Linked DNA regions of Homo sapiens. The protein of the gene in region 6 purifies or fractionates together with the protein of the main gene of each other region. This does not show direct contact. Each region holds a gene or a part of one and is shown on either strand. Other genes may lie near its edges.

Region 1 (4,424 bases), on a different chromosome or scaffold from region 6:
GTGGCGATGGAACAGTAACCGGGCTTGTGAGAGGGCTCTGCAGTATAAACTAGGAGACAAGATCCATGGATTCACCGTAAACCAGGTATGGGTCGTCCTCGGCACCTCCTTATAAATCCACATACATTGCAGGTGCGGCTTCTGGCCTATGTACGGAGCCCTTCAGGGCGGAGACTAGCGTTTTTGTCCTTGTGTCCCAAGGCCCTGGCCCAGCTCCTGCTGTGTGGCAGCTACTCGGCTGAACAGAGCTTGTGAGTGAAATGAGCCCCAGTCCCTTCCTGGAATCCCGCAAAGCCTGGTTCTTGTGAGATTTTAGAGAGTAACACTTCCAGCTGGGTCTCTGTAATCAGACACACTAGCGTTTCTGCAGCCAAACCTGATGTTTCACTGAGCATGAGCATGAAGACTCACTGCCCTGATCTGTTTAGTCAGGTTTTGCCATCAAATAGCTTGCTCTAAACGTCCGCAGAACCTTTCAGTTTTCTGAGCCATTCGGGTTTCAGAATGATAAAGAAGCAATTGTGGACCTGTACTTACTTGGGTCTGTATTAAAATAGATTCATTTGGTTTTTGTTTTGTTATTTTGCCTAAACCTTTTGCATTGTTTCTATTTAGCATGGTAACTGAAAATGACACGCTTCATGTATTTGGCCAGCTGTTGGCTTTGTGCTATGCTTGATGTTATAGCAAACGTGAAAGACAAACAGCTTACTGTCTAGAAAGACTGCTGCGGCTGTGACCGGAGGCACATGGTGGACGCCACGCGGAGGGCCAAGGACAAGGGCAGGAGGAGGAGTGGGAGCTGCTGCTGCTGGGGGCAGAGGGAAGAGCTCCTGGAGAGGGTGGTGTGAGAACGTGGCTGCCTTCGGTCAGGGCTCCAGCAAGGGAGCCAGGGCAGTGACTAGGGTGCGCCAGACAAGGTCCAGGCATGGGACTCATGAAAAGACTTGGAGCGTTTGTGAAATCCTGCAAAGGCCAGGCAAAGACACTTGGGTTTATGGTACAGGTTACTGTTAATAAGGGCCTCACCCACAGCGGTAGATTCTCCTCCTTTATTTCTCAAATTTTATAGAAACGTATTTACTTTTGAGACTGGGACTCACCCTGTCGCCCAGGCTGGAGTGTGGTGGTATGATCTTGGCTCACTGCAGCCTCGAACTCCTGGGCTCAAGCGATCCTCTTGCCAAGTAGCTGGGACAAGGTGCCACCACGCCTGGCTAATTGTGTGTGTGTGTGTGTGTGTGTGTGTGTGTGTGTGTGTGTGTGTGTGTGTAGATGGAAACTTTGTTGCCTAGACTGGTCTCAAACTCCTGGGTTCAAGCAATCCTTTTGCTTGTGTATTAGTCTAGTCTCACACTGCTATGAAGAAATACCCAAGACTGGGTAATTTATAAAGTATGAGCTAAAAAGTGAAGAGGTTTAATTGACTCACAGTTCTGCATGGCTGGGGAGGCCTCAGGAAACACAATCGTGGTGGAAGGCATCTCTTCACAGGGCGGCAGGGGAGAGAATGAGGATCAAGTGAAGGGGGAAGCCCCTTATAAAACCGTCAGCTCTCATGAGAACGTGCTCACTGTCACGAGAATAACATGGAGGAAACCGCCCTCTTGATTCAATTACCTCCCACCAGGTCCCTCCCACAACATGTGGGGATTATGGAAACTACAATTCAAGATGAGATTTGGGTGGGGACACAGCCAAACCATATCACCTTGGCCTTCCAAAGTGCTGGGATTATAGGTGTGAGCCACTGTGTCCAGCCATAGAAACTTACGATAAGTCATGATTCTTGTTTGAGAAATAGCTACCATGAAAGCTATTATTATTAAAGCTATATATTATTAGAAAGCAAACATCTCACTGTATCTGCTGACTTCAAAAGCATTGATCATCTGTTACAAAGTACAGTGAGCTTGGAAACAGAAGTAATTTCGCGGCGGTAGATGATGCAGGTCATAGTGGTCTGCTTTATGCATGACTGTTGCGTGGCAGGCTCCCTAGATTGGGCTGAGGAGACCCGAGGTCTGACCTTGGCCAGCGACTTACTGTGTGCGCTTGGCCAGGTGACTCATGGCACCTGGCAGGAGGGGGTGGTGAGTGGTGTGGTGATCACAGGGACGTGGTGTGTGATTGAGGGAGAGGGCCGGCTGGCATGACTGGAAGAGAAGACAGTTTCTTTCATACCGAGGAGTATGGTCACTTACCAGGAGGCTTACCTAAAGTAGGAGATGACCTTCCACGCCGCCCCAGGAGTGGGGAGTCTTTCGTCTGTCTTGTGGGCATTTCTATCCTCCCGGCCCCTCCAGCTGTTCTGGAAGCCACAGCTTTGTGCTTCTAGCTACCACCGAGAACCCATCCTAAACTAAGAGAAGCAAAGGCTGATCCTAGAGCCTCTCCCTGCTGTCGCAGGCTAGCCCACTCTAGCATTTCCCCTCCTTGCAGGCCCGTTCTGCGCACTACAGGAGATGATATGCACAGAAACAGACACACAGCCAACGTTGGAAGGGGTGCTGTGTTACTGAGGCGCAGCACACAAAAGCAGGAGACACTCAGCAGACATTGGAAGGGGCGCTGTGTTACTGAGGCACAGCACACAAAAGCAGGAGACACTCAGCAGACATTGGAAAGGGCGCTCTGTTACTTAGGTGCAGCATGGTACCATGGGAAGGGCAGACACCAGGGTGAATCCTGGCTCTGTGATTTAGGCAGCTTATTTCATCACCCTGAGCCTCGGTTTTTTCGTCTGTAAATGAGTATGAGAATACCTCCCTCACAGGATTATATGTGACATGATTAGAAAATGCCTAGCCAAAAAAAGAATAAAAAATTTAAAAAATAAAAAAATCTAAAATACCTAGCCAGTAGTAAGCGCGTGCGCTCTCGCGCTCGCTCGCTCGCTCGCTCTCTCTCTCTTTCTATACACACACACACATATTCTCATCTGCCTTTTTTAGGTCTGTCTTTCCTTGTTTGTAGGATAAGGGACCTGGACAAGATGGTTCTCTTCTCTCCAGCTCTGAAATACTGCCTTCCCGGCATCATCTAATTTCAGGCAGAAAAGCCAGTTTTCTCAGTGTGTCGAACATAACCATTTCAAAGGCCATTTTGTCTAAGTTTAACTGGTCGTGTTTTTCTTGTTAACTCAGGTGACATCTGTTCCCGAGCTGTTCCTGACTGCAGTGAAGCTCACCCATGATGACACAGGAGCCAGGTATTTACACCTGGCCAGAGAAGACACGAATAATCTGTTCAGGTGTGTGGTGCATTGTAAGAACATGGTCTTGAATGTTTTTATTTAAATCAGGAATGTCCATTCTTTTGGCTTCCCTGTGCCACAATGGAAGAAGAACAACTGTCTTAGGCCACGCATAAAATACACTAACACTAAGGACAGCTGATGAGCTAAAAATAATAAATAAAGGACCCCTCAATGTTTTAAGAAAGTGTATGAATTTGTGTTGGGCTGCATTTCAAGCCATCCTGAGCATGCGGGCTGCAGGCTGCGGGTTGGACAAGCTTGATTTAAAACATGGCTATACATTACGTGGTTTAAAATATCATCTCACTAGTATTTTTATTGACAGAGCATCTTGAAAAATAAGGAAAAGTTTACACTGACTTATAATCTCATCAAAATACAATTTTACAGTCTGAGTCAATGATTTACATTATAGTTGGAAAACCCTGTGCTGGAGGATTGTGGTGTCAGAATGATGATTTCTAGTAGCCTGAGGTGATGATGCATCTGGGAACTGTGTCCGCAGCACTAAGCTGAACCTTTTGCGTTCTGGTCATTCTCCTTCCCTAGCGTGCAGTTCCGTACTACTCCCATGGACAGTACTGGTGTTCCTCACATTCTTGAGCATACCGTCCTTTGTGGGTCTCAGAAATATCCGTGCAGAGACCCTTTCTTCAAAATGTTGAACCGGTCCCTCTCCACGTTCATGAACGCCTTCACAGGTAAGACCAGCATCCTGAACAGAAACTGCTTTTGGGTTTGCCAGGCACACCCACTGGAATTCAGTTAGTTTCTGAGAAGGAATGAGGGGAGTGGGCAATTCATGTTCTAGAAAAATTTTTACCTCTCTCTAGTTGAAGGACATTAGAAATTTAATCCTTCAGGAAAGCCACATGGTAGCGAGATTGTAAAAACTAGCGTTTTAAGAAAACATATGTGAACTTTTCCCAGAAAAGTTCAAAACAATTTTCTCTTGGAGATATCGCTACAATGCCAGAGTTACTACTAATGTTGATGTTTGACTTTTAGTAAGACTGACGATAGTGGATAGGGTGACGATGAACAGTGCATTCTGTGGGGGAGTGACATTGAAGAGCGGGTTAAATCCATGCTGTTACAGAATGAGGTCATCTTTGTAGATGTATGAAAGTCTCTGGAGAAACTTGAGAGAGTTTAGATATTCGCT
Region 2 (4,424 bases), on a different chromosome or scaffold from region 6:
TGCCACCCGCTTCAAGTGATTCTCCTGCCTCAGCCTCCCGAGTAGCTGGGATTGCAGGCATGCGCCACCATGCCCAGCTAATTTTTTTTGTATTTTAGTAGAGACGGGGTTTCTCCATGTTGGTTAGGCTGGTCTCGAACTTCTGACCTCAGGTGATCCGCCCGCCTCGGCCTCCCAAAGTGCAGGGATTACAGGCGTGAGCCACCACGCCCAGCCTCAGATCTAGTTTTTTACTTGTAGTATCAATAAAATTTACTTACGTACCAGTAACAATTACATACAAGGATCAAAAATTTAGCTCCCTGAAATTCAGCATCCCTGAAATTAAATGGATAGGATTTTCTCATAACATGATCACATTTTTAAAAAGCCTGTTTAGGGCAACAGTTGGAAATAAGTGATGAAGAAACTGAATAAATTATACAGAAGTGCCCTTCTACATAATTTACTAAGAGGTCAAGGCAGAAGGATCACTTGAGGCCAGAAGTTCAAGACCAACCTAAACAACATAGCAAGACCCCCATCTCTGCAAAAATTAAATAAAATGAAATTTTAAATTTAGCTGAGTGTGGTGGCATGTGCCTGAGGTTCTAGCTACTTACACGAAATAATTTCTTTTTTTTTTTTTTTTTTTTTGAGACGGAGTCTTGCTCTGTCACCCAGGCTGGAGAGCAGTGGCGTGATCTGGGCTCACTGCAAGCTCCACCTCCCAGGTTCATGCCATTCTCCTGCCTCAGCCTCCTGAGTAGCTTGGGACTACAGGCGCCCGCCACCGCGCCCGGCTAATTTTTTCTATTTTTAGTAGAGATGGGGTTTCATCGTGTTAGCTTGATCTGACCTCGTGATCTGCCCGCCTTAGCCTCCCAAAGTGCTGGGATTACAGGTGTGAGCCACCGCGCCTGGCCACAAAATAATTTATAAAAGCTGCAATATGGTTTTTGATATATCAGATATTACATAATAACTACAATAGATTTAGATTATGACTTCTCTGGTAAACCAAGTGATATAGTTTGGATGTTTGTCCCCTCCAGATCACATGTTGAAATGTGATCGCCAGTGTTGGAGGTGGGGCCTGGTGGGAGGTGTTTGGGTCATGAGGGTGGATCCCTCATCCCCTCCCCACTGTAATGAGTTCAAGAGTCTGGGATCTCTGTCATCTTTCTTGCTCCCTCTCTCACCATGTGACATACTTGCTCTCACTTCACCTTCCACAATGAGTAACAGCTTCCTGAGGTCTCACTGGAAGCCAGACAGATGCTGGTGCCATGCTTGTATAGTCTGCAGAACCACGAGCCAAATAAACAACTTCTTCTTCTTTTTTTTTTTTTAATAAATTACCCAGCCTCAGGTATTCCTTTATAGCCATGCAAAATGGACTAATAAACCAAGGAAAGCCAGAATATAGTTCTGACATTCCAGACACGTCCTGCAGGTAAGAGCAAGGTCATAGATAATAAAACCCTTGCTTGGTGGTTCAAAACAGCAAACATTTATTATCTCAGTTTCTGTGGGTTGGGAATCTAGAAGCAGCTTAGCCTAGCTGGGTGGTTCTGGCCCAGGGTTCTTGTAAGGCTGCACTCAAGGTGTCAGCCCATGCTGCAGTCTCTCAAAGCTCAACTGGGGTTTGATCCACTTCCAGACTCACTCATGTTTCTGGTGGTAAGTCTCAGTTCTTTGCCATGCAAGCTTCTCCACGAGGTCTGTGTCACTACATGGCAACTAGTGTCCTTCAGAGAAAGTGTCCAAGATGGAAACTACAGTCTTCTTTAATATTTTAAGTGGCATCTCATCACTTCAGCTGCATTCTGTTAGTCCAGCTTATAATTGGGGGTAGAGGATTCCACAGAGATCAGCAGTCAGGGATTGTTGGTGAGCTCTTAGAGGCTGTCCACCACAATAAGAAAGCAGCAGATCATGTCTTCCATTCTCCCAAGATATTTTATCTTTCAGTAGAATGATACCTAGTAGCAGACTAACAACCATATGGACAAGCAGGATGCTGAATCTCAATATATGTAAGATGGAATATAACAGAATGACCAGAAATTAGAATTTCATTTTCATATGCTGTTGTTCAATTATTTTTTCACTTTTAGTATGGATTAATTAAAAGGATTGAGTTTGTCATTATGAGAACTTGAACTTTTATTGTTATAAACTGAGGACATCAATGTATGTTATTCTGGATTTTCAACTATTTTGATGTGAGATTTTATAAATGTTATGAGTTATATATGTTAGCACATGTGGAATGGTGACTGAAGAATTTGTTTGCACAATTTAGAATGATCTTGTCCTTTTAAAATACCAGTTTAGTTTACTTGGTATACCAGGCTCTCTTTTGACATTAATGTAACTTTTGAGACATTAGGTTAGACATAGCTTAGCTTTAAATTCTGTCCAAAAGCAATTTATGGTATGCCTGTATTGTATTAGGTGCTAGAGTAAATGAGGTTATACTACTTTTCAATTTTTTTTTTTGAGACGGAGTCTTGCTCTGTCACCCAGGCTGGAGTACAGTGTCGCGATCTCTGCTTACCGCGACCTCCGCCTCCTGGGTTCAAGCCATTCTCCTGCCTCAGCCTCCTGAGTAGCTGGGATTACAGGCACTTGTCACCACACCCAGCTAATTTTTGTATTTTGAGTAGACATGAGGTTTCACCACATTGGCCAGGCTGGTCTCCCAACTCCTGACCTCGTGATCCACCTGTCTCGGCCTCCCAAAGTGCTGGGATTATAGGCGTGAGCCACCACGCGGCCTGCTTTTCAGTTTATAATCTGTTTTGGAATGAAAGACGGCCTGAAATGTACAGATATCATGTTTAGGCAGAATCACCAGTAGGTGTTGGTTATATAAAGTATGTTGTATGATGAAAAATATCTTATAACTTTAAAAAGTATGTGCTAGTAAGGAAGGATTGGCAAGATACACTGTTAGTGAAAACAGCAAACAAAACAACATTTATAACATCCTGAGGGTGGCGTTTGTGTGTGTGGATGAGGGAGCTATGTATACATGTGTAAGTGTACCCATGGACAGTGTTTGGAAAGACTTTATAAGAAACTTGGTGATGGTTCCTTCTGGGGAGTACGACTCTGAGGGTCTTGTGTAGGAAGATGGACTTTTCATTGTACGCTTTTTCAAAAAAAATTTTACATAATATTTTTGTTTAAAAAAATTGCCCAGTCTCTGAACATGGCTTTAAGAAATGTGTCTAATAATATATACATATACCCACTGTTATTTTAGTGATTTTTTTCTGAATATTGAAATGGACCCATTTGCAGGAAAGCTTGATTTGAGCTGTGAAGTTTGTTTTCAAAGCCTATACTGGCAGAGGCTCATGTTTACTTACCATATTATTTTCTTTATAGGGAGACCAAATTTTGAGGAAGGTGGACCAACATCAGTAGGGAGAAAGCATGAATTTATACGCTCAGAAAGTGAAAATTGGCGCATCTTTAGAGAGGAACAAAATGGAGAAGATGAAGATGGAGGTTGGCGACTAGCTGGATCAAGGAGGGATGGAGAGAGGTGGCGACCTCACAGTCCTGGTAAGAATTCTGTTGAGTAAAGGCACACAGGGACTGAAATAAGGGAAAGTTTGATGGAAATAGGGATTAAATGAAAAAGATAAACTGGCTTAAAAAATGTGGGGGTGGATTCATATTATTTATGCTGTCACAGTTTTATTACTAGAAAAAATTGCAACATAAAAATTTCCTACATCTATTCAGTTGATTGAAATCACTTTTCTATTTTTCTGGGGCAAATAGTGTAGTTTAATGGGAAGCACCTGCGCTCAACTGCAGAAATGAGGGTTTCATTCAGTTTTGTCTACCTCTAAATCTCTGAATCTTTTTTAGCATTCTTTAAGATTTATAAATGTGTAAAAATTACACACTTGAAATATGTGCTTCCCTCCCCAACAATGAGTGTTTTTCCTAACAAGAAAGGGTTTATTCTTTCATTTTTTCCCTTTTGAAAATGTGATTTAACCTTATTTGAAGAATAAGCTTTAAACCTAGGTCAGAAACATAATCACAAGTTCATTCTTATGTCCTTCTAACTTTAGAAGAAGGAGAGACAATAGTAGTGATTAGTGGCTTTTAAAGTTCTTCTGTTTGTCTCTTAAAAATGCTCAAACTGTTCTTCTTGGACATTAGATATGCTAGTAATTGAAGACACTAGTGCTTTGTGTTAAAGTTCATCCTGTACCACAGTGCTGATTCCATGCCTCATGATAATCAGATGCAACTGTAGTTCCAATTGTGGGGTCATGCAAAACTGAAGCACACAGAGTATATGTGGAATGCCCTATGAATTTCATGTGTATGACAGTATTTTATCAACCATGTGCCAGAGGGGCTTACCTTTAATACAGGAAATTATGATAAGTAAACTGTTTTCACTTTTAAAA
Region 3 (4,424 bases), on a different chromosome or scaffold from region 6:
AAACAAATCAAGCAAAGCAAAACAAAACCACCAAAAAAACTTGTAAGGGGATCCTATTGTGCAGCCAGTGTTGAAAACCACAGATCTGGTTGAACCATATGAAATTACCAACATAAAAATGGCAATATCATATGGTATAACTGAATAAAAGGATAAAGGAAAAAAAACAGCATGTTTGAAAAAAAATGTGTTGAGATGGACGCCTATTTGTAAGTTTATTTGTATTTGCCTTTAGCTAAATGTGTGTAAATATACAGTTATACATATATGCATTTCTCAATTTCATACCTTGCTTAATGGGTGTAGATACCAAAAGATAAGAATAAAACACATACAAGTTGGAAATTTCTGGGCCATGAAAAAAAAAACATGCAAAATCACATTATTGCCAACATGACTTACTTGATCCCCATAAGCATGACGACCTATGATGATAGGTTTTACCCATCCACTCACAAGCCGGGGGATATTTTTGCAGATAATGGCTTCTCTGAAGACCGTGCCACCCAGAATATTTCGTATGGTGCCATTTGGTGATTTCCACATTTGTTTCAACTTGAACTCCTCAACCCTCTTCTCATCAGGAGTGATAGTGGCACATTTGACGCCAACATTATGCTTCTTTATAGCTTCTGCAGCATCCTTGGTGACTTGGTCGTTGGTGGCATCACGATTCTCTATGCCTAAATCATAGCTTGAAAGAGAAAAATTAGAAGCAAAGTTTTTCAGACAAATGGATAGTTATAACCTACAACTGCAGTGATGGCATATAGAGCTCATTATGCAGAAAGCGAAGGCTCTGAGTACACCAAAATCTGCCAAGTTTTAGCACTGGCACACCCTAAACACAGAAGATGGGTGCCAACTACAAAGAGAACTAAGAGAGGCTAGACTGCTGGGCTGCCCCTCCTCTTGTAATGGGAAGCTGTCTATCAGGAAAATGAATGGAAACCATCAAACTCTGCCCTTTGCCTCCTGTTTTTCACCAGATAGAGGCAATAATGGCCTGGTTTCTCTCCATATAATTAGTATAATAAGTGTAAGTCTAAGGACCACCTTTTTCCCTTAGTAAATATTGCTCTTTAAAAATAAAAGGGGGTGGGAGGGGTTAAAGGATTTTTTGTATTTTGACGTTGAAGTGGTGGGAGGTAAAGATGTGACAGTTGATGCCAAAAATGCGAATGACTACTTCATTAATGCCAGTTAGTCATAAAATGAGCCTTTCCCTTTTTTTTTTTTTTTTAGATGAGTCTCGTTTTGTTGCCCAGGCTGGAGTGCAGTGGCACGATCTTGGCTCACTCAACCTCTGCCTTCCTGGGTTCAAGTGATTCCCCCGCCTCAGCCTCCCCAGTAGCGGGGACTACAGGCATGCACCACCATGCCCAGCTAATTCCTTCTGTAATTCTTGAGCAAGTGTTTGCTCTGGAAACAAGCCTACAATTTATTGGGTAAGTAAAGGAATCCATCAATGGTTTTCTACATACCAGAGAGTAATAGCTTAATATACACCAACACAAAGATTGCAGGTCATTCAGAGCTGAAAGAATGTTAGTTGTCCAGGGAGCATAGAAAATGACTGCAAAGCTTTATTTGAAGCATGCAATAGTTTGTTAAAAAGCAAGAAAACAAAATAATGTTTTGTTTATTCTGTTCTCCAAGGATTTAAAAGGTTTTTCAGCTCTTAAAACCTGCCTCTAGATTTCTTTTTGGTTCCCTTATCTTCCTTTCTTAGATCTCCTACCCAACTCATGATGCAAACAAAGAGATAGTAATCTTGACATATTTCCAAATAAAAATAACTTCCAACTGCTTCGACTTTAGATAATTCATATAAATCTAACAAAGTCATGTCCTTTGTTATCTTCTTGCATAGGAAATGTTGATCCAATCCCAACTCCAACAGGAAGTATGATCAGTAGTTTTCAAGTTCCTAGGAACCATTTCTCATAAGGAGAATCTATCAGCAAATTATTAGATTTTTTGCTTGTCTTCTTAACATTTCTAAGAAGATAAGAAAGGAAGGAACAAATTGCCCAGACCACTGTCCAGCCTACATAAAACAAACTACCTGCTCCATTCTCCTGAAAAAGAACCAGTCAGTGATAATAATAGGAATTTTGGAAAAATTTAAAACTTGTTTGAGCCTCCAAAAATTATCTAGTCTGCAGCCACCAAATTTTTTCCTCCTAGTCATAGTGACTCCCCTTTAAAACTCCTCATGATTCCACACTAAAGAGGCTCAAAGCATCTTTAGTTGCAGCCATTATAAGGAAAAGAACCCTGCCAGTTCACCTACTGTCATGTAAAGTCCTGAAACAGGAGTTCCTAAGATGCTTTTTTTTTTTAACCTAGTTGGAAGATGTTTTTATGCCTAATTTCTTATGTTTGGTTGACTTCTGCAAGTATTTATATCTTATCATGATTTCAATATAGACATCAGCAGCTTAGGTTTAGAACAATTAAAAAGTATGTTTAATGACATTATGTGAATTAAATGTCTCCACTCAAACAGGTCCTTAGGACAAATTTTGATGACTAATTCTGGGCTGAGGCAAACACACTTAGAGTTGCCAATAGTTTGGCTGAAACGTGTTGCTCAATATTTTTCTATGCCAGTCTTCAGCCACTTTACCCTTTTAAAAATTCTATCTCTACCTAAAGGTACAAAGAACAGAAGCAAGTTTATGAAAAACACAGCGAAAAAAATGAGAGAATTACATAGACTTTTGCATCTGTCCCCAGGCACTTTACACACAGGGCAAAGGGACACAGGATTTAAGGGAATTTTGCTGGAAAGGAGGGGTTCAACTAAGAAACATCATGAATTCTTTCTGCACTACAATTGTATGAAAAGGGCAAAAGGTGAGGCATGAAAAGGAAACAGGTCCATTGACTAAGTAAAGTGATAGAAAATTGAGTTTGAAATGACAAAATTGTGTTAACTGCATTTAGTTTACTGTTTCTTACATCCTCTCTTATTTCCCTTTTCTCAATACATTGTACTATTCTTAGCCACTGTTTTATTACAAATAAAACCTTCACAGGAAACAGAAGGTTAGAAGAATCTGAAAATCATTCTTTCCCTTATAATTCTTGACTTTTAGATGATAAATCCAGTTTTTCTAGCAGTATGTTAAAATTAGAAGATTCATCTGAATATATTTAGGCTTAAAACAAACTTTATTCACAAAACACAGCTATATCTATATAAAAAAAGCTAACTTCACCTCAAAATAATTCAGATTATATTCTTTTTTTTTTTCCTGTTTCTCCTTCCCTTTTTTTTCCTTTTTTTTTTAAAGTGATGGGGTCTCACTCTGTTGCCCAGGCTGGACTTGAATTCCTGGTCTTGAGGGATCCTCCTGCCTCTGCCTCCTAAGTAGCTGGGACTTCACGTGTGCACCACCATGCCCAGCCAGATTATCCTTTCTGAGTTTGCTACACGGAGGGGTAACTCATTTACCTATGTAGATCCAATTCCACGTAGGGAAAAATGAGTTTCTCTTTAATCAATTCCCAAATGATTCGTGTCATTTCATCTCCTTGCATCTCTACCACAGAACCGCCACTGATTTTTTTGGACATTTTGACTTCAATAAACCTAAAAAGAAAAAAAAAATACATGCCTTGTCATTTATTTCATTATAAAGTGAAATATATAAACAACGTAGTGTTTATATAAACAACGTAGTGACTACTAAAAGAACAATTCATGCAATTCAATTTATGTGTAGTTGAATAAAAAGCTAGTAACAGCAATTCTATTTACCATTAGAATTGAGTATCTTCTCTGAACAAAGTATTGTGTTATGTTTCACACGCGGTTTCTGAGCTAGCCCTCATAACAATCCAAAAAAATGGCCATCATTTCCCCATTTTACTTTGTTAAAAAAAAAAGAGCTTTCCCAAGGCCACCTAGCTAGAGCGTGGCAGAGCCTGACCCTATAACGTGCCCTTCATAATGCAATCATTATTCTCAACTACTGGTTTGTCTTAAGAAATGAGATTATTTCCACAATCTCATGTTTATTGAACACTTCAGTCCAACTCATCATTTTACTGGGCTCTCAAGATGTCCAGAATGGTGAGTGCTAGCATTTCTCCTCCTTTAAGAGGCTGTTTTTGTTATTTAATAAAAATAACTAGCCATGAGGAGATTCAGCTGGTTCCTGTGACCCATATTCAGGGAAACTTTAAGTCTAAAAGCGAGACGAAGAATTCCTGGTGGAACTGTTTTCCTAGAGATAACACAGACATTGGAGATGTGGGGCTAAATACAACAAAGTGATTTCTCAATTAGAAGAATCTCTATACAGTAGGGCCACTGCCCAGGACCCAAGCATGTCCCTGTCATCTTCTTCTGGCTGTTCACAGGCAAGGGTAAGCTGCTAGTGAGTGGGATAGGACAAACTGTGCATTGTCCT
Region 4 (4,424 bases), on a different chromosome or scaffold from region 6:
TCATCTGCATGTTATAGAAAAAATAAACAGGGATCTAAGAGGGCTTCAAGCAACTTCCTGTGCTTGCCCAGTGAGTGAGCCTGGGTTGTCTCACTCCAGAACCAGAAATGCGCTGGCCTTTGGAGTCTACTTCTCCTTTGCATATCTTTTTATCTGCTTGTTTGAGGTTATGAGGATTTGTAGAAAAATGAAACTATAAGAAATTAATCATACCTATGAAATAAGATAGCTGTTATAGTAGCTGCTCCATCTACATTGTTACCAAGAGTTATCAGGGAATCAGTTTGAGATTTTAACAACATCTGTCCTCCAGTTAACCAGGCACTCTGAGAAATCAGCCCCCATGAGTCCTTTTGAAGATTTTTGCCTAGAAATGCTTTCATGGGCACAGGAATAATTTGTTTTTTTGGGGGTGGGGATGCAGGCAGTGGAGTGTATATTACTTTCCCAGTCATTTTTCTCCTTCATAAAGTGACTCCTTAAATCTGAAGACCATGCAGAGCAGTTTTCTAAGTGCTTTGTATATGGAAGATGTGTTTTAGAGATTATACTAGCAGTTGAAAATTGAGATATAAGCTGGGCATGGTGGCTCATGCCTGCAGTCCCAGCACTTTGGGAGGCTGAGGCAGGTGTATCACCTGAGGTCAGGAGTTCGAGACCAGCCTGGCCAACATGGTGAAACCCTGTTTCCACGAAAAATACAATAAACTAGCTGGGCATGGTGGTACGTGCCTGTAATCCCAGCTACTTGGGAGGCTGAGACACGAGAATCGCTTGAACCTGGGAGGCAGAGGTTGTAGTGAGCCGAGATTGCGCCACTGCACTCCAGCCTGGGTGACAGAGTGAGACTCCATCTCAAAAATAAATATATAAAATAAAATTGAGATATAGTTCAGAAAGCCCACCAAGATCTGAATTATTTAAACCTGTGTCCAAATTGTTTTTGTTCTCATTATCTTGCAATTGTTTTTCTTTGCATACAGGCTCGTGAGCCCTTGGTTGTGTTTCTCCCTTTTTTCTCTCACTGTTTTTTTTCTTTTCCTTTTTGAGACGGGTCTCACCCTGTTGCCCAGGCTGGCATGCAGTGACACAGTCATAGCTCACTGCAGCCTCAGCCTCAACCTTCCAGGCTCAAGCGATCCTCCGACCTCAGCCTCCAAAGTAGCTGGGACTACTGCTGTGCGACACCATGCCTGGCTAATTTTTGAATTTTTATTTTTAGAGATGGGGTCTCCCTATTTTGGCCAGTCTGGTCTCAAACTCCTGGGCTCAAGAGATCCTCCAGCCTCGGCCTCCCAAAGTGCTGAGATTACAGGTGTGAGCCACTGTGCCTGGCCTCAGGATGAGTGCTTTCTTAGATTTAGATTTCTTCAAGGGCAGATTTAGATTTCTTCAAGTTCTGAGTAGCTTTGAACACGATGCTACAGGGTTTAGTGTTTAACAGAGATTTGCTGGGTTTAGTGTTTAACAGATATTTATTACAAGGGGAAAGTAAATTCATGGTGACAGGTTACTGTTTCTAATTGGTGCATTGACGAATAAAGTGTAGAATTGAGAGATTTACCTCGGTCATCTCTTCAGCGATCCATCTAGAAGCCTAAAGTTTAAAATTGTGTGCAGCAGGGCAGTGAGGCCCCTTAGCTTTGGACATTTGTTAGAATTCTCTCTCTTTATTCTGCTGATGAATGAATGCTCTAAATTGGGTTTTGAAGTTGTTAAACAGAAATGTGAAAATCAGAATTTATATTTTGTTATACTTGCCATTTGAGTAATTTTTCATTTTAAAACAAAATTGCTTAACTTTTGGTTAAGCTAATAAGTTTTTTTCCCAAAAATCTTACTTTGACATGGTTTTAGTTTGTGCCACGACTAATTCCTATAGAGGATTGAGTGAATACTAAACATAAGCAGTCATTCCTTGTTGTCAAGATGGTTCTAGAAATAAGGAAGCCACAGCTTCATCAAAGGATTCCTGTAAATATGGTTTTTGGAGGTACATAGTCCACATTATAGCTCTTAGTAGATATGTAGTCTATTTGGGGGTAGATAATTGTGATCAGAGTGCAGAGGGTAGGTGCTAGAACTCCTTCACAGTTAAGCGGCACTTAACACAGTTAAGTTTTAAGAAAAAACACACAAGATCTGTGACTACGGTTATTTAGTGAGCTGTAGCTTTAGGGCCAGACAAAATATGATGAGTGTTTCTGTTTGGCTCTTCCCAAAGGCCCAGAGGATGAAAAGATTTTAAGGCTAACTTGAAATATGGTTGTTATTATCCCCAAGGTGCCCAGACAGCAGCGTTTCATTGCTCTTCCCAGGTATGTGTAGGACGGTATCAGAAATGACCATGTCATCCTTCATTTGCAGATGAGGAACTCTGCCCAGGGAGGCTGTGATATAGCCCTTGCCAAAGGCTGTTTGTAAGGCCTTGAAGGCCCTGACTCAGTTTATGAAACTTACATGACTCCTTCCAATGAATTTGCTTACAAAGAATTTTTTTTCTTTTCAGTGAACATTTAGGTTAGAAATAGGGCCCCTTGAGCTCTTTTTATCAACACGTACTCACAGAACATGGTCTAGGGGCTTTAATTTAGGGCAGGTGCATTATATGACACCATCTTTGTTTCTTCAGTGACTCAGAATCTGTGAAATTATTTGAACAGCTGCTTTTGTGTAAGCTTGCTAACATGCAGGGTGACTGTCTCAATCTGTGCCCGTCAGTGTTCATTCTTCTGTACTCGTTATTTTCAAATCCTGTTGAGTGCCCACTTTTTCTTTTAGTTTTGTTAACTTTTTACGTACTTTGCCTTTCGTTGTTTGGGACTCTGTAGAGTGAATATAGGAGGATTTCTTCCACAGATCTGCTCCTGTCGTGCCACTTGCATAAACCTCATTGTGGTGACTTGGCTGTTTTCTGTTATGGCCTCAGTTGATGTTGCAGTGAGTGCTACACCATGATGGTGAGGTCCGTTTGCACCCCAGCTGGTGAGCACAGGATCCTCTTTGCCAAACTGCAGAAAGAATTCCCTTGTCTCGCTGCCTCCGCTTCTCCCCACTGCGTGTCTATAGTACTGTGCCTCGAACCTTCTCTGCCCACTTGTGTTGTCCTTACAGCTGATCCTATTTTCCTTGACTCCTCCCATGTGACTTACTACATTGCTGGGGGGAATGAATGTGTGAATACAGTACCTAGCATGTGGCAAACGCTGTCTAAGTAAGGGTGTGATGGTGTTTATTATTCCTACTGAGTGCTTAAGCATGGGAAGTCAGGTATCACATTTTCGTGTTTTGTTTTTTTTTTTCTTTTGGGGAAAAAGAACTTGTTTGGTGTTGAGAGCTGTCAATAAAGCAAGGCCTGTGATTGGCAAAATTGGTTATGGGTGTAGCTATAGGAGATGTATGTACTATACAGCTGTTTACTTATCCCTGAATTTCCACAATGCAAACAATGTTTGGGAGGCTGACCAATGGGTTATATAGGAATCTCAATTTTCAAATGTGAATTGGTAGTTATAATTTTGAATTTCTGTATTTTCCATTAATGTTCACTTAATTTTCATTCAGTTAGACCTATGGTAGTGTTATGTCCATTAAGATACAAGCAATTAATGAGTATTTTTCTTGATTATTTTTACAATATTAGGGACAAGTCTATATTTTCATAAACTGTTTTCAGTTGTCTCTGCTCTTTCTTCTTTAAGCAATACAGATTTACACAACTTTTTTCTCTTTCAGCTTTAACAATCTGCTTTGTATGTGACATGTAAGGATTTGGTTTTCTGTAAATACATACTTTCACACACATACCTTATATGGTGTGACTAGTAATGTAACTAATTTTTAATATTATTTACCTCTAAAAAAGTGTTCAGATATTCAAATAAATGAAAGTCGTTTTCTATAAAGTTAATGAACATATTCTAACAAAGTTCCTATGCAAGCATTTTGAGAACTGTTTTTTTTTTGTTTTTTTTTGAGACAGAGTCTTGCTCTGTCACCCAGGCTGGAGTACAGTGGTGCAATCTTGGCTCACTGCAACCTCCGCCTCCCGGGTTCAAGTGATTCTCCTGTCTCAGCCTCCCGAGTAGCTGGGATTACAGGTGTGCACCACCATGCCTGGCTGATTTTTGTATTATTAGTAGAGATGGGGTTTCACCATGTTGGCTAGGCTGGTCTCAAGCTCCTGACCTTTATTTTGAAACAGTCTCCTGAGCTTGAGCCCATACGTTGTGAATATCCTGCATGCTGACATTTTAAAGCCTTAGGTTTGGTTTTTGGAAATCGAAATCTGGGCCTAGCACAGGACTGGCCCTCAATGTATGTTGGCTGAATGAATAGATGAAGCTACTGGTAGAAAAATCTATTGCTGTATGTCATTTCTTTTTTCAGAAATGATGTTGGTTATCAAGGACTATTTACTTTTC
Region 5 (4,424 bases), on a different chromosome or scaffold from region 6:
TCCAAGGAGTTGATGCTTCCCAGAAACATAAAAAATAAAATAAAACACTGCTCTAAAGTATGTGACTGACAGTTTATCTTTAAACTGCCTGGCTAACTGCATATGTGACTGACTTTTTTGAGAAATTAAACAGAAAAAAGCAAAACACTGCAGCACCACACAGTACCAATGATCACCCTCTGCCATACTTGCTTCAGGTCTTTCACCCGTTTAACTTTTCAATGACAGAAAATAAACATCACAAATCAGGTGGAAGGTCCTGTGCAGCCCATCCTTCCCCCAGCACCTTTCCTCCCTGGAAGATATTGAGAGGTGACAGCGTGCTGGCAGCCCTCACAGCCCTCGCTTGCTCTCGGCACCTCCTCTGCCTGGGCTCCCACTTTGGCAGCACTTGAGGAGCCCTTCAGCCCGCCGCTGCACTGCGGGAGCCCCTTTCTGGGCTGGCCAAGGTGGGAGCCGGCTCCCTCAGCTTGCTGGGAGGTGTGGAGGGAGAGGCGTGGGTGGGAACCAGGGCTGCGGGCAGTGCTTGCGGGCCAGCGCGAGTTCTGGGTGGGCATGGGCTCAGCGGGTGGGTGTGGGCTAGGCGGGCCCCATACTCTGGAGCAGCCAGCTGGCCCCAGGCAGTGAGGGGCTTAGCACCTGGGCCAGCAGCTGCTGTGCTCAATTTCTTGCTGGGCCTTAGCTGCCTTCCCACGGGGCAGGGCTCCGGATCTGCAGCCTGCCATGCGGGAGCCTCCCCGCCCTCCCACCCCCACCCATGGGTGCTCCTGTGTGGCCCCAACCTCCCCAAGGAGCGCTGCCCCCTGCTCCACGGCGCCCAGTCCCATCGACCACCCAAGGGCTGAGGAATGCGGGTGCATGGCAGGGGACTGGCAGGCAGCTCCACCTGCGGCCCCAGTGCAGGATCCACTGGTTGAAGCCAGCCGGGCTCCTGAGTCTGATGGGGACTTGGAGAACCTCTATGTCTAGCTAAGAGATTGTAAATACACCAATCAGCACTCTGTATCTAGCTACTCTGGTGGGGACTTGGAGAACCTTTGTGTCTACACTCTGTATCTAGCTAATCTACTGGGGAGGTGGAGAACCTTTGTGTCTAGCTCAGGGATTGTAAACGCACCAATCAGCACCCTGTCTAACAGACCACTCGGCTCTCTGTAAAATGGACCAATCAGCAGAATGTGGGTGGGGCCAGATAAGAGAATAAAAGCAAGCTGCCAGAGCCAGCAGTGGCAACCCGCTTGGGTCCCCTTCCACACTGTGGAAGCTTTGTTCTTTCGCTCTTTGCAATAAATCTTGCTACTGCTCACTCTTTGGGTCCACACTGCCTTTATGAGCTGTAACACTCACCGCGAAGGTCTGCAGCTTCACTCCTGAAGCCAGCGAGACCACGAACCCACCTCGGGAGGAATGAACAACTCCAGGTGTGCCGCCTTAAGAGCTGTAACACTCACCATGAAGGTCTGCAGCTTCACTCCTGAGCCAGCGAGACCACGAACCCACCAGAAGGAAGAAACTCCGAGCACATCTGAACATCAGAAGGAACAACTCCGGACACGCCGCCTTTAAGAACTGTAACACTCACCGCGAGGGTCTGCAGCTTCATTCTTGAAATCAGTGAGACCAAGAACCCACCAATTCCAGACACAATATCCCTATCTTGAGTCTGGAGATGGATTCAAAAAGCAACAGAATTTCAAGTCTAAGAGAGTAAGCCTTTAGGATAGAACTCCAGAAGGTGATCCCTCTTCACTGGAAGACCCATAACTATGTAACTGTGTCTCTTCCCAACCTCACCCATAGAACCTGAAGGCTTTCTAGCTCAATCTCTAACACTCCAGCCCTCTCCACCTCCATGTGCCCCACTCCCCAGCTAGGAAAGTGAATACCCAGCCCAGAAAGGTTATTGACAAGAAGTTCTTTGTGGGGTGTAAATATGGTGTAAGTATGAACAATCATTAGGAACATGACTCATGGTTCCAGGCCAGCTCCTGGCACTAACTAGCCACTTGACTTAGGACAAGCCCCTTCCCTCTCTGGATTAGTTTCCTCATTTGTAAAAGATGGAGATTAAATTAGTCTCAAAGTGATTCTCTAATTCTACAGATCTATAAATTAAAATGGCTGTAATTATTTGCAATAAATAATAGCAGCTGCTATTTACTGTGCATTTACTATATACCAGATAATGTGCAAGGAATACTGCAGTTAATGCATTTAATCTTTTCAATAATCCTATACGATAGTGTTATTCATTCCATTTTACAAATGAGAAAACTGAGGTTAAAAGATGTCAAATGAATGGCCCAAGTTCAGACAGCCAGTAAGTAGCACTTAAGCCTCAAGTCAGAGCTCTTAACCGCTATGCTACACAGTCCACTGCATTCTAAAGGATGTCTTCACTTTACAAAAGGACTCAGCAGAGACCTCCTTCACAGGATGAACTGGCTGGCCACAAGGTCACAGGGTTTACTACTGCTGCTTCTTCCTTTTTTTTTTTTTTTGAGACAGGATCTCACTCTGTCACCCAGGCTGTAGTGCAGTGGTGATCACTGCAGCCTCAAACTCCTAGGCTCAAGCAATCCTTCTACCTCAGCCTCCTGAGTAGCTAGGACTACAGGCACATGTCAACATGCCCAGCTAATTTTTATTTTTTACTTTTTGTAGAGATGGGGTCTTGCTATGTTGCCCAAGTTGGTCTCAAACTCCTGGCCTCAAGTGACCCTCCTGCCTTAGCCTCCCAAAGTGCTGGGATTACAGGCATGCGCCACCACATCTGGTCCAACTACTGCTTCTAAAATATCACTTGCTCTGAAAGATTAGTCACACCTCTTTGTAGTGAAAATGTACTTGGTCCAGGAAGGGGCTGGTGGGCTGTCAGAAAACTGAGCCTCATCAGATACTGCTTTTCCAGCCTTTAATTCACTCTCTGCCTCCTGGAGAAAGGCTCAGGTGATAAGTAAAAGATAAATGAAAAGCTACAAATTTTCCTTTCCAAGCATGCATAATTTTTTTCCATATAAAAAAAGGATAGGAGGAAAACAAACCAAAAAAACCAACCTAACCAGTCCATGAATCACTGTACCCAGGGCAACTTTTTTTTTTAAACCCAGTTTTCCTTATAAAAGGCTTAGGAAATTGTCCAAACCTGCCTGGCCTAGCTCAGGGCCTGGTGCCCTACCACAGTTTTTATTTATCTGCAGCAGTCACGAGCAAAGGAATTAATCCATGTGTGAACACTTAAATAGGAGTTACCCTGAAGTAAAAGCTCCATTTTAAAACTCAAGAGATGTCAACAGCATGGAGTGGTGTCCCCTCCTTCTCAGCAGAGGAGACTGATGTGCCTCTAGATCAAGGGCTTCTGGATGCCAGGAAAGCTCTTGGTGACTTTCACAGCTGTTACCCATGTGATCACAACAACCCTACCAGTAGGGTGTGGTGTGGTGGAAACAGCCACCTTCCAAATTATACTTAAATCTCTGTTGTCACATGCCAGTTTTGTGACCTTGACCTAAATAGCTCTAAGCCTGTTTCTTCATCTAGAAAGCAGGGATAACCCCGACCTTACAGAGTTACAAGAGAACAGAAACGTCATAAAGCATTTAAAGGAGTCCTTCAGTGTAACACATAGGAGTCCCCCCAAAGCAGTTCCCTTCCCCTGCTTCTGGGGGCATGCATTAACTCACTGCATCCTCAAAAACAACCCTGAGAGAGGTTACAGATAAGAATGGAGGCACCTAAGTTTCAATCTCCTGTTTGTGACAGAGTGGAAGGACATTTAAGCACAGACCTACTTTCCCTCACACCCAGGAAGCCCAGTCCTATTACTTCTTAATAGAAACTGACAAGTTGGCGCTACCAATCTGACACATCTGGAAGGACTTTAGACTCAAAGTGGTCCTCTGAGGTTATGTTAACCCCTCATTAACTTGCTTTGACTTGTCTAATACTCCAGATTCCTAAAGGAGAAGTGAGACTAAATTCCTTCCCCTACTAGAAGGTGACTGCCCCCCGCCCTTAGGAAAGGGGCCACATTTGGTCCAGCTTTGCAGGCTCGGGCCCATCACACAGCAGGCAAAAGTAGGTGTTGATCCTTGTTTGACTTTCCAACCCTGTTGAGTAGCCAGGCATTCCTCTGAAAGGATATGGCTCCATAACTCTGCATCCTGCAGTGTCTGGGCATAAGGCTTTCTGTGCCATGGGTCTGTAAACAGAAAGGGCAGAGAGCTAAAAATCAAGAGTCCTGAGGGCTGGCTCCAATTCTGTCATGGCCAGACTGAGCAACCGAATACTGACTGCTCAATCTCATAGTTGAAAACCAGGCTGAGGCCCTGATCTCCCTCTTCCATGCTATACCCCTAAACAATGCTTATGATGAAAGCAAGATCCACAGAAAAGAAATGGAAGCCATCAGCTGGGCTACAACT
Region 6 (4,326 bases):
TGTACAGCGCTGACGGGTTCACGTTGAACACATGGCTGGTGGCTCTGTCACCCACACCTGAGCACAGCTTGCACACACAGGGTGTCCCCATGAGGCACATCATGGCCTCCTGGTGCTGAAGGAGACGAGACAGTGCTCTGCACAACGCTTGGGGCCTTTTAAACACAAAATCACCAAGAGCAGAAAGATGCAAACACCGTGCCCCCACTAGACTGAGAAAAGGACGCTTGCTCATAAAATGAGCCGAAGTGAGAAGACAGAGTGCGGCCCTTCTGAGGACCGTCTGCTCAGGGGCGCCGCAGTGCTGGCCTCTGGGGTTTTTGTGGATCTTAGTAGGCGAGTTTGAAAACACGGAGTCCAGGAATGAGGATCGACCGTGTGTCCACCTTTCCTGGCTTCCCTGCCACACTGTTTGCACAGCACTCGTAGCCAGCACACGCGTGTGCACATCCACACAGGTGCTCACACAGGTGCCCACGCACGTGCCTGCAGGCCTGCTTTGCATGCTGCTTTCTGCGTGTCCCTGGCGCCTGGCACGGCGAGTCCCTTGGTGCATTCCGTCGGGACAAGGAGTGTGGCTGCGTGGTCCTTGGAACAGAAAAGCCTCGGTGTTGCAGAGAGGACCTTGAGGATCACCCAGGAGTTCCCTCGCCGTTGGCTGCCTGCCATGGTTCCAGCGGGACTCAGTCAAGGGCTGTGCTTTTAGGGAAGGTTCCACACACACACGAGCAGGGAGATGCAGCATGCCTCACAGCGTCCCCACCCGGACCTGGCCGTCCCCAGGTCCCAACCCCTCGGGGTGCGGAGCTTTCAGGGAGCAGCAGCTCTGTGGCTAGAGGAGAAGCGTGGGTGGCCTCCAGGGACGGGGTCATGTGGCCGGCATCTTCAGGTGTGTCCTGCTGCCACCGGCAGCCAGCAGCAGCCCAGGGGCCTCCGGGTCCCGGTCGTTTTCCAGTTTTGGGGTGGGAGGGCCGGGCCCAGCGCATCACCTGTGCACTCGCCCTGTTTGCACTGTGGCAGCTGACACGGGCCAGGCCGGCGGGAACGGGCTAGGCAGGACCTGGGCACTCTGAGGCTCTGCCCCATCCCTGCAGGCGGAGTTCGCCATGTTCAGCGGGACCCACGTGGAGCGGGACTTTGTGGAGGCGCCGTCGCAGATGCTGGAGAACTGGGTGTGGGAGCAGGAGCCGCTGCTGCGGATGTCGCGGCACTACCGCACAGGCAGCGCCGTGCCCCGGGAGCTCCTGGAGAAGCTCATTGAGTCCCGGCAGGCCAACACAGGTGCACCCGCCCCGTCCGGGGAAGGGTGCTAACCTCGGGGGGCGGCACACAGCTGGGGCCTGGCATGTGCCCCGGGTGGGGGTCGGAGCTCTGGGCAGAGTGGGCCGGGGCAGGTGCAGAGGCCAGCTCTCTCCTTCCCTCCCGCCCAGGCCTCTTCAACCTGCGCCAGATCGTCCTCGCCAAGGTGGACCAGGCCCTGCACACGCAGACGGACGCAGACCCCGCCGAGGAGTATGCGCGGCTCTGCCAGGAGATCCTCGGGGTCCCGGCCACGCCAGGTAGCCACCCTTGAGCCGGGCACACCCTGGAATTTGGAGCCTCAGCTGCTTCCCTGGGAAGGTGAAGGGAGTTGGTCCCCATGCTTCACTTAGCAAGTGCAGGAGTCCCTGCTGGGGAGCCACGGAGCGCGTCCCAGGCTCCTCGGGGGACAGCCCCAGCTGAGATGCAGCTGCAGGCCCAGGGTCGGGGACGGGTGTGCGGCCCCAGCCCCCAGGAGGAGTGTGTTCCCTGGAGCCTCTGCTTTGAATGAAGCTGGCGTTTTCCTGATTGAAATGTATGACACATGCTTTGTAAAAAGCCTGGAGAAGTACAGGAAGGCCTAGGAATTTCCGATCCTAATGATGAGAAGTGGGCCCTGTTTCCATGCTCACCTGTTGTCCTGTGTGCATGTGTGTTCACACACGCTTGCGAGGATCCAGAATTTGGAAATACAGCATGATTTTAACATGGGTGGTGTTTTGCTGGCTTAACACTCCATAGACTTCAAAAATCTTTCCAAAAGCGTTTTCAGCAGCGTGGCCTGTGATGTTGCGTGGGCGTGCCTTGCTTTATTGACGCAGTCTCAAAATGGGGACTTTGCTCTGTGGCAGCTGACAGCCCCGTTAAATGAGCTCCTGTCCTTCCAGGAGAGGGGGCGGAGACTTGTGGCCCTCGCTTTGTGGCTGACTCTGGTTCTAGAAGTATCCAGCTGGTCTCGGCCCTCACCGTGATCCTCCAGCTTCTCCCTGTTCCGGGCAGGGGTCTCAGGAGTCTGGCTGGTTGTCTTCTCCTGGAGGAGGAGCATGGGGTGGGGGCTACAGCGTGAACCCTGCCATGTGTCCGCCCCAGGAACCAACATGCCTGCAACCTTCGGCCATCTGGCAGGTGGCTACGACGCCCAGTACTACGGGTACCTGTGGAGCGAGGTGTATTCCATGGACATGTTCCACACGCGCTTCAAGCAGGAGGGTGTCCTGAACAGCAAGGTACGCGGGGACTGGGGACAGGGAGGGCGTCCTGAACGGCAAGGTACGCGGGGACTGGGGACAGGGAGGGCGTCCTGAATGGCAAGGTACGCGGGGACTGGGGACAGGGAGGGCGTCCTGAACGGCAAGGTACGCGGGGACTGGGGACAGGGAGGGCGTCCTCAACAGCAGGGTGGGGCCGAGAAAAGCACACCTTTGGCCTGGGCCTGGGTGTGCCGGGTGAGCCATCCCGGCCGAGGCACCTGCTGGTCTTGGTGCGGTGCTGCCCACAGCTCCTCCCTGGGCCCTGCAGGAAGCTCCACACTGGCCCCTCAGGCCTCGGGCTGTGAGTGCTGGGAGCTCCGTGTCTTCCCATACGAGTCCTTCCGGGATCTGCGTGATCGGCCTCAGAGCCATGGGCTGAGACAGACCCTTCTCTGGAGAAGGCTTGGCGTTTGCCATTCATTTGCTCCTCCAACCTCCAGTTTCCTCACTATGAAGTGCGGCCGTTACGCCATGTGAGCCTGTGCCTCCCGCTGACTTGGTGTGACCCAGGCTCGGGACAGCCGCCAGAGTCCCTCACAAGGAACAGGTGGCTACCAGCTTTGAGGGCCGGCCCTGCCCTGCCTGGGTGCAACATTGCACTGGGCAGCCTGCAGGTACCTCGGAGCCACCAAGCAGGCACTCAGCTGCTCCCTTTATAGAGGTGCAGAGGCCAGGACCTGGGGGAGCAATGGTCCGACAAGCCCCCTGTCTTCACAGCCCAGCAGGGACCTCCCCCCTCCTGAGGCAGCCTCCAGCAGCTCCCCCTGCTGCTGAGGTGAGGGGGTCCCACCTCTGAGGACCGGCCGGGGGCTGTAGAGGTGGAGTCCCCCGGGTGGGAGCTGGGACTGTGGCTCCCTGGCTCTGCAGCCTGCAGTCCGCGCAGGCTCCTGCGGGGCTCTGGGGCGTCGGGGTCTCCTTGGTGGCTGGCACCGGCGCCTCGCAGTCTCATCTGCCTCACCTGCCCGTAGTCCCGCAGTCACAGGGCTGGGCTCAAACCTGGGCCTTTAGGGCGGCCCAGAGCGCGAGCGGCTTCCACATTGTCCAGCCGGAGGCTCAGCCACTTCTGTTCATGGGCTCAGCCTGGGATTTCAGTGGGGGCTGATGGCGGGAGCCACCTCGGGAGTTTGGGGAGTTCGGGGCTCTGCTGGCCCCTCAGTGCACACCCCCGCTCTGAGATTCTGATGAAAGGCACCTGCGCTCTCCCACCTGTGCTGATGCAGGCGGCCCCCGGGCCTCCCTGGGAACCTGGAAGGGGTTGCTCCGAGGCCCCCCTGGGCGAGGGTGTGCAGACTCCTGGGGTCCTCTGCCTTCCTCCCTGGGTCCCCACCCGGCCACAGTGCCCTGTCTCCTCGGCAGGTTGGCATGGATTACAGAAGCTGCATCCTGAGACCCGGCGGTTCCGAGGATGCCAGCGCCATGCTGAGGCGCTTCCTGGGCCGTGACCCCAAGCAGGACGCCTTCCTCCTGAGCAAGGGGCTGCAGGTCGGGGGCTGCGAGCCCGAGCCGCAGGTCTGCTGAGGCCTGGCACTGCGACTGCCCAGTCTGGCCTGCGCTCCCGCCGCCCTGGTGCCTTAGCCCCCGGCACAGGATGGGGCAGGCTCTGGCACAGTGCCTGGGACTGGCAGGGTGGCTGAGCGGCTGTCTTGCCTCTTGTCATTGTCTGTCCCCACCCGGTCGTGGCCCACCCGGCTAGAGACGGCGTCCTCAAGGCATCTGGAGGGCTTTCGTGGCTGCCAGGGCCTGGTCTTTGTTGCACTAACACGTCTCCTCTCTGGGA
Region 7 (3,977 bases), on a different chromosome or scaffold from region 6:
TTTTTTTTTTTTTTTTTTTTTCTGAGACAGTTTCACTCTTGTTGCCCAGGCTGGAGTGCAATGGCGTGATCTCAGTTCACTGCAGCCTCCCCCTCCTGGGTTCAAGTGATTCTCCTGCCTCAGCCTCCTGAGTAGCTGGGATTACAGGCATGTACCACCACATCCAGCTAATTTTGTATTTTTAGTAGAGACGGAGTTTCTTCATGTTGGTCAGGCTGGTCTTGAACTCCTGACCTCAGGTGATCCACCTACCTCAGCCTCCCAAAGTGCTGGGATTACAGGTGTGAGCCACCACGCCCGGCCAACTATTCCATTTTTGTGGCGAGATTTTTTTGTTTTTGTTTTTGTTTTTTAATTCTTCCTTCTTAGGAGCTGTAAGACTATTCAGAGAGTTCAGAAAGGCACAAAATGGAAAGTAAATGGCTTCCACTCTTTCTCTTAAAGGAACTACTAAATACAGTGTCTTGGGTATTTTTCTAAAGTTTTTAAAAAATGAAATTATTTTGCATTTTGTTCACTTGGTAAATTTTGGAGGTCATCTCATCAGTATATTTATCTTTCGCATGTTTTTCTAGGAGTTATGTGGTTTTACATTGTAAGAACTTTAGAAAAATACATTTAGCCAGTTCTGTAACACTGAATTGTATACTAGGTTTTAGCTGACATAAGCAGTGTGTCAGTCCCTTTATATGTACCTATTTGTGTAGGTACAACTGGTCCCTGGCTTATGAAGTTTGACCTGATTTTTTTCGACTTTACAATGGTGTATAACCATACTTTGAGCACTCACACGTTGTTTTTTTTTCTTTCTTTAAGAGACAGGGTCTCTTGGCTGGGAGCAGTGGCTCACGCCTGTAATCCCAACACTTTGAGAGGCCAGGGTGGCGGATCACTTGAGCTCAGGGGTTTGAGAACAGCCTGGGCAACATAGTGAGACCTTGTCTCTAAAAAACACAAAAAATTAGCCTGGTGTAGTGGCACGCACCTGTGGTCCCAGGTACTCAGGAGGCTGAGGTGGGAGAGTAACTTGAGCCTAGGAGGTGGAGGCTACAGTGGGCCACAGTCATGCCACTACACTCTAGCCTGGGTGACAGAGTAAGACCCCATCTCAAAAAATAAAAAATTAAAAAAAAAGATCTTGCTCTGTCACCCAGGCTGGAGTGCAGTGGCACAATTATAGCTTTTTGCAGCCTCGAACTCCTGGGCTCAAGTGATCCTGCCACCTCAGTCTTCTGTGTAGCTAGGACTGCAGGTGCATGCCATCACACTTGGCTAACTTTTTAATTTTTTTGTAGAGATGGGGTCTCGCTATGTTGCCTCAGTTGGTTGTAAACTCTTGGTCCCATGCAGTTGTCCTACCTTGGCCTCCCAAAGCACTGGGATTACAGGTGTAAGCCACCGTGACTGGCCCCGTTCTATTTTTCACTTTCAGTACAGTGTTCAATGAGTTACATGAGGTACTAAACACTTCATTGTAAAAGAAGCTTTGTTTTGCCCAGCTGTAGGCTAATGTAGGTGTTCTGAGCATGTTTAAGGTAGGGTAGGTTAAGCTATGATGTTCAGCAGGTTATATGTCATAAATATATCTTCAACTTAGGATATTTTCTACTTAGGATGGGTTTTCCAAGATGTTAACCCCATCCATTGTGTTAATAAGTTGAGGAGTTTATCTGTGTGTGTATGCATCATGGTGTCCTTTAGCAAATACAGTCTTAGCAGTGGAAATTGCTGGCAGTATGATAGGGACACTTGAAAATTGCATAGATAATTGCCAACTTGAAGGCAGAGGGTGGTGCTCTTTGCATCTCAGAGCCTAGCAAAGGTAGGTAGTTGCTCAACAAACGGACTAATGTTCTAATGCAAATGCTGAATGCTCCACTTTGGAAGGGGGAGAATTTAGAGGGCAAAGGGGAATCGCACAGGGTCTTAAAGTGCAACAGCCACAGTCCTTCCTTTTTGGGGAAAAAAAAAAAAAGTCCCGGCCGGGCATGGTGGTTCACGCCTGTAATCCCAGCACTTTGGGGAGGCCAAGGCGAGCGGATCACGAGGTCAAGAGATCGAGACCATCCTGGCCAATATGATGAAACCCCATCTCTACTAAAAATACAAAAATTAGCTGGGTGTGGTGGCACGCGCCTGTAGTCCCAGCTACTTGGGAAGCTGAGGCAGGAGAATCGCTTGAACCCGGGAGGCGGAGGTTGCAGTGAGTCGAGATCACGCCACTGCAGCAAGACTCTGTCTCAAAAAAAAAAAAAAAAAATTTAAAAAGTCCCAAATCTGCCACCATTTATTCTTGATCTTTTTCAGAAGCGGCACCATGTACTACAGACGGCTCATCCCTCCCCTTTGTCAGTGTATAGAGGGTTCTTTGGATGTAGACACTTTTCAAAGACCAATGAGCTGCTGCAGAAGTCTGGCAAGAAGCCCATTGACTGGAAGGAGCTGTGATCATCAGCTGAGGGGTGGCCTTTGAGAAGCTGCTGTTAACGTATTTGCCAGTTACGAAGTTCCACTGAAAATTTTCCTATTAATTCTTAAGTACTCTGCATAAGGGGGAAAAGCTTCCAGAAAGCAGCCATGAACCAGGCTGTCCAGGAATGGCAGCTGTATCCAACCACAAACAACAAAGGCTACCCTTTGACCAAATGTCTTTCTCTGCAACATGGCTTCGGCCTAAAATATGCAGAAGACAGATGAGGTCAAATACTCAGTTGGCTCTCTTTATCTCCCTTGCCTTTATGGTGAAACAGGGGAGATGTGCACCTTTCAGGCACAGCCCTAGTTTGGCGCCTGCTGCTCCTTGGTTTTGCCTGGTTAGACTTTCAGTGACAGATGTTGGGGTGTTTTTGCTTAGAAAGGTCCCCTTGTCTCAGCCTTGCAGGGCAGGCATGCCAGTCTCTGCCAGTTCCACTGCCCCCTTGATCTTTGAAGGAGTCCTCAGGCCCCTCGCAGCATAAGGATGTTTTGCAACTTTCCAGAATCTGGCCCAGAAATTAGGGCTCAATTTCCTGATTGTAGTAGAGGTTAAGATTGCTGTGAGCTTTATCAGATAAGAGACCGAGAGAAGTAAGCTGGGTCTTGTTATTCCTTGGGTGTTGGTGGAATAAGCAGTGGAATTTGAACAAGGAAGAGGAGAAAAGGGAATTTTGTCTTTATGGGGTGGGGTGATTTTCTCCTAGGGTTATGTCCAGTTGGGGTTTTTAAGGCAGCACAGACTGCCAAGTACTGTTTTTTTTAACCGACTGAAATCACTTTGGGATATTTTTTCCTGCAACACTGGAAAGTTTTAGTTTTTTAAGAAGTACTCATGCAGATATATATATATATATTTTTCCCAGTCCTTTTTTTAAGAGACGGTCTTTATTGGGTCTGCACCTCCATCCTTGATCTTGTTAGCAATGCTGTTTTTGCTGTTAGTCGGGTTAGAGTTGGCTCTACGCGAGGTTTGTTAATAAAAGTTTGTTAAAAGTTTGTTTTGTGCAAGTGTCCTTTGTGCGTCCAGGCCAGGGCATCCATGGACGTCCTTGGGCTGCCCTTTCCCTTGGCGCCTCCCAGGGTTCCCATAGCAACCACCGTCTGCAGGAGGGGCCGCCCTTGCCCCTCCTCCCCGCCCTGCCGCTCAGTGGAACGGCCCAACCCTCCCCTGGCTGCGGTGAGCGCTGGGCCCAACCCCCGGCCTGGAGCAGCGCCCCAACTCCGAGCACCGTGGAGCACCGGCTGCCAGCTGAGACCCCAGAGGGGTAACTAACGGCCTGAGGAAGGCATTTCTTCGGGGAACATGGCGTGCCCGTCGTGGCTACGTTCTGCCAAGCCCTGTGACGTTGGAGGGGAGCCGCCTGCATCCCCCGCTCAGCCAGTGTTTCTAGACTCCGAGACATCTGGAACTCGGAAGTGAGGCCAGGGCTCCAGGAAGACTCCCTGATGACGCACTGGCCCGCAGCCCAGGCTCAGGTAGTGGGGGCTGTCAGGATGATCTG

What was found.
Region 1: the proteins of THOP1 (region 6) and PITRM1 fractionate together in Homo sapiens (co-fractionation; one large-scale study listed by BioGRID). This does not show direct contact.
Region 2: the proteins of THOP1 (region 6) and GIGYF2 purify together in Homo sapiens (affinity purification with mass spectrometry, with the first as the bait; one large-scale study listed by BioGRID). This does not show direct contact.
Region 3: the proteins of THOP1 (region 6) and IDH1 fractionate together in Homo sapiens (co-fractionation; one large-scale study listed by BioGRID). This does not show direct contact.
Region 4: the proteins of THOP1 (region 6) and TTC39C fractionate together in Homo sapiens (co-fractionation; one large-scale study listed by BioGRID). This does not show direct contact.
Region 5: the proteins of THOP1 (region 6) and EXOSC7 purify together in Homo sapiens (affinity purification with mass spectrometry, with the first as the bait; one large-scale study listed by BioGRID). This does not show direct contact.
Region 7: the proteins of THOP1 (region 6) and UNG fractionate together in Homo sapiens (co-fractionation; one large-scale study listed by BioGRID). This does not show direct contact.

Annotation. Positions count from the first base shown.
Region 1 is NC_000010.11:3,165,765-3,170,188, reverse strand, and holds part of PITRM1 (presequence protease, mitochondrial isoform 2 precursor), read left to right. Parts: coding exon 1-85; intron 86-3,146; coding exon 3,147-3,253; intron 3,254-3,808; coding exon 3,809-3,960; intron 3,961-4,424. UniProt on the Homo sapiens protein: Metalloendopeptidase of the mitochondrial matrix that functions in peptide cleavage and degradation rather than in protein processing. Has an ATP-independent activity. Specifically cleaves peptides in the range of 5 to 65 residues.
Region 2 is NC_000002.12:232,783,772-232,788,195, forward strand, and holds part of GIGYF2 (GRB10-interacting GYF protein 2), read left to right. Parts: intron 1-3,378; coding exon 3,379-3,558; intron 3,559-4,424. UniProt on the Homo sapiens protein: Key component of the 4EHP-GYF2 complex, a multiprotein complex that acts as a repressor of translation initiation. In the 4EHP-GYF2 complex, acts as a factor that bridges EIF4E2 to ZFP36/TTP, linking translation repression with mRNA decay.
Region 3 is NC_000002.12:208,247,967-208,252,390, forward strand, and holds part of IDH1 (isocitrate dehydrogenase [NADP] cytoplasmic), read right to left. Parts: intron 3,602-4,424; 5' UTR 3,586-3,601; coding exon 3,464-3,585; intron 695-3,463; coding exon 403-694; intron 1-402. UniProt on the Homo sapiens protein: Catalyzes the NADP(+)-dependent oxidative decarboxylation of isocitrate (D-threo-isocitrate) to 2-ketoglutarate (2-oxoglutarate), which is required by other enzymes such as the phytanoyl-CoA dioxygenase.
Region 4 is NC_000018.10:24,083,628-24,088,051, forward strand, and holds part of TTC39C (tetratricopeptide repeat protein 39C), read left to right. Parts: intron 1-4,389; coding exon of another isoform or gene 4,390-4,395; exon of another isoform or gene 4,396-4,424.
Region 5 is NC_000003.12:44,982,544-44,986,967, reverse strand, and holds part of EXOSC7 (exosome complex component RRP42), read right to left. Parts: intron 1-4,424. UniProt on the Homo sapiens protein: Non-catalytic component of the RNA exosome complex which has 3'->5' exoribonuclease activity and participates in a multitude of cellular RNA processing and degradation events.
Region 6 is NC_000019.10:2,809,210-2,813,535, forward strand, and holds part of THOP1 (thimet oligopeptidase), read left to right. Parts: intron 1-1,094; coding exon 1,095-1,281; intron 1,282-1,430; coding exon 1,431-1,559; intron 1,560-2,388; coding exon 2,389-2,525; intron 2,526-3,905; coding exon 3,906-4,067; 3' UTR 4,068-4,326. UniProt on the Homo sapiens protein: Involved in the metabolism of neuropeptides under 20 amino acid residues long. Involved in cytoplasmic peptide degradation. Able to degrade the amyloid-beta precursor protein and generate amyloidogenic fragments.
Region 7 is NC_000012.12:109,107,522-109,111,498, forward strand, and holds the end of UNG (uracil-DNA glycosylase), read left to right. Parts: intron 1-2,307; coding exon 2,308-2,448; 3' UTR 2,449-3,471; downstream 3,472-3,977. UniProt on the Homo sapiens protein: Uracil-DNA glycosylase that hydrolyzes the N-glycosidic bond between uracil and deoxyribose in single- and double-stranded DNA (ssDNA and dsDNA) to release a free uracil residue and form an abasic (apurinic/apyrimidinic; AP) site.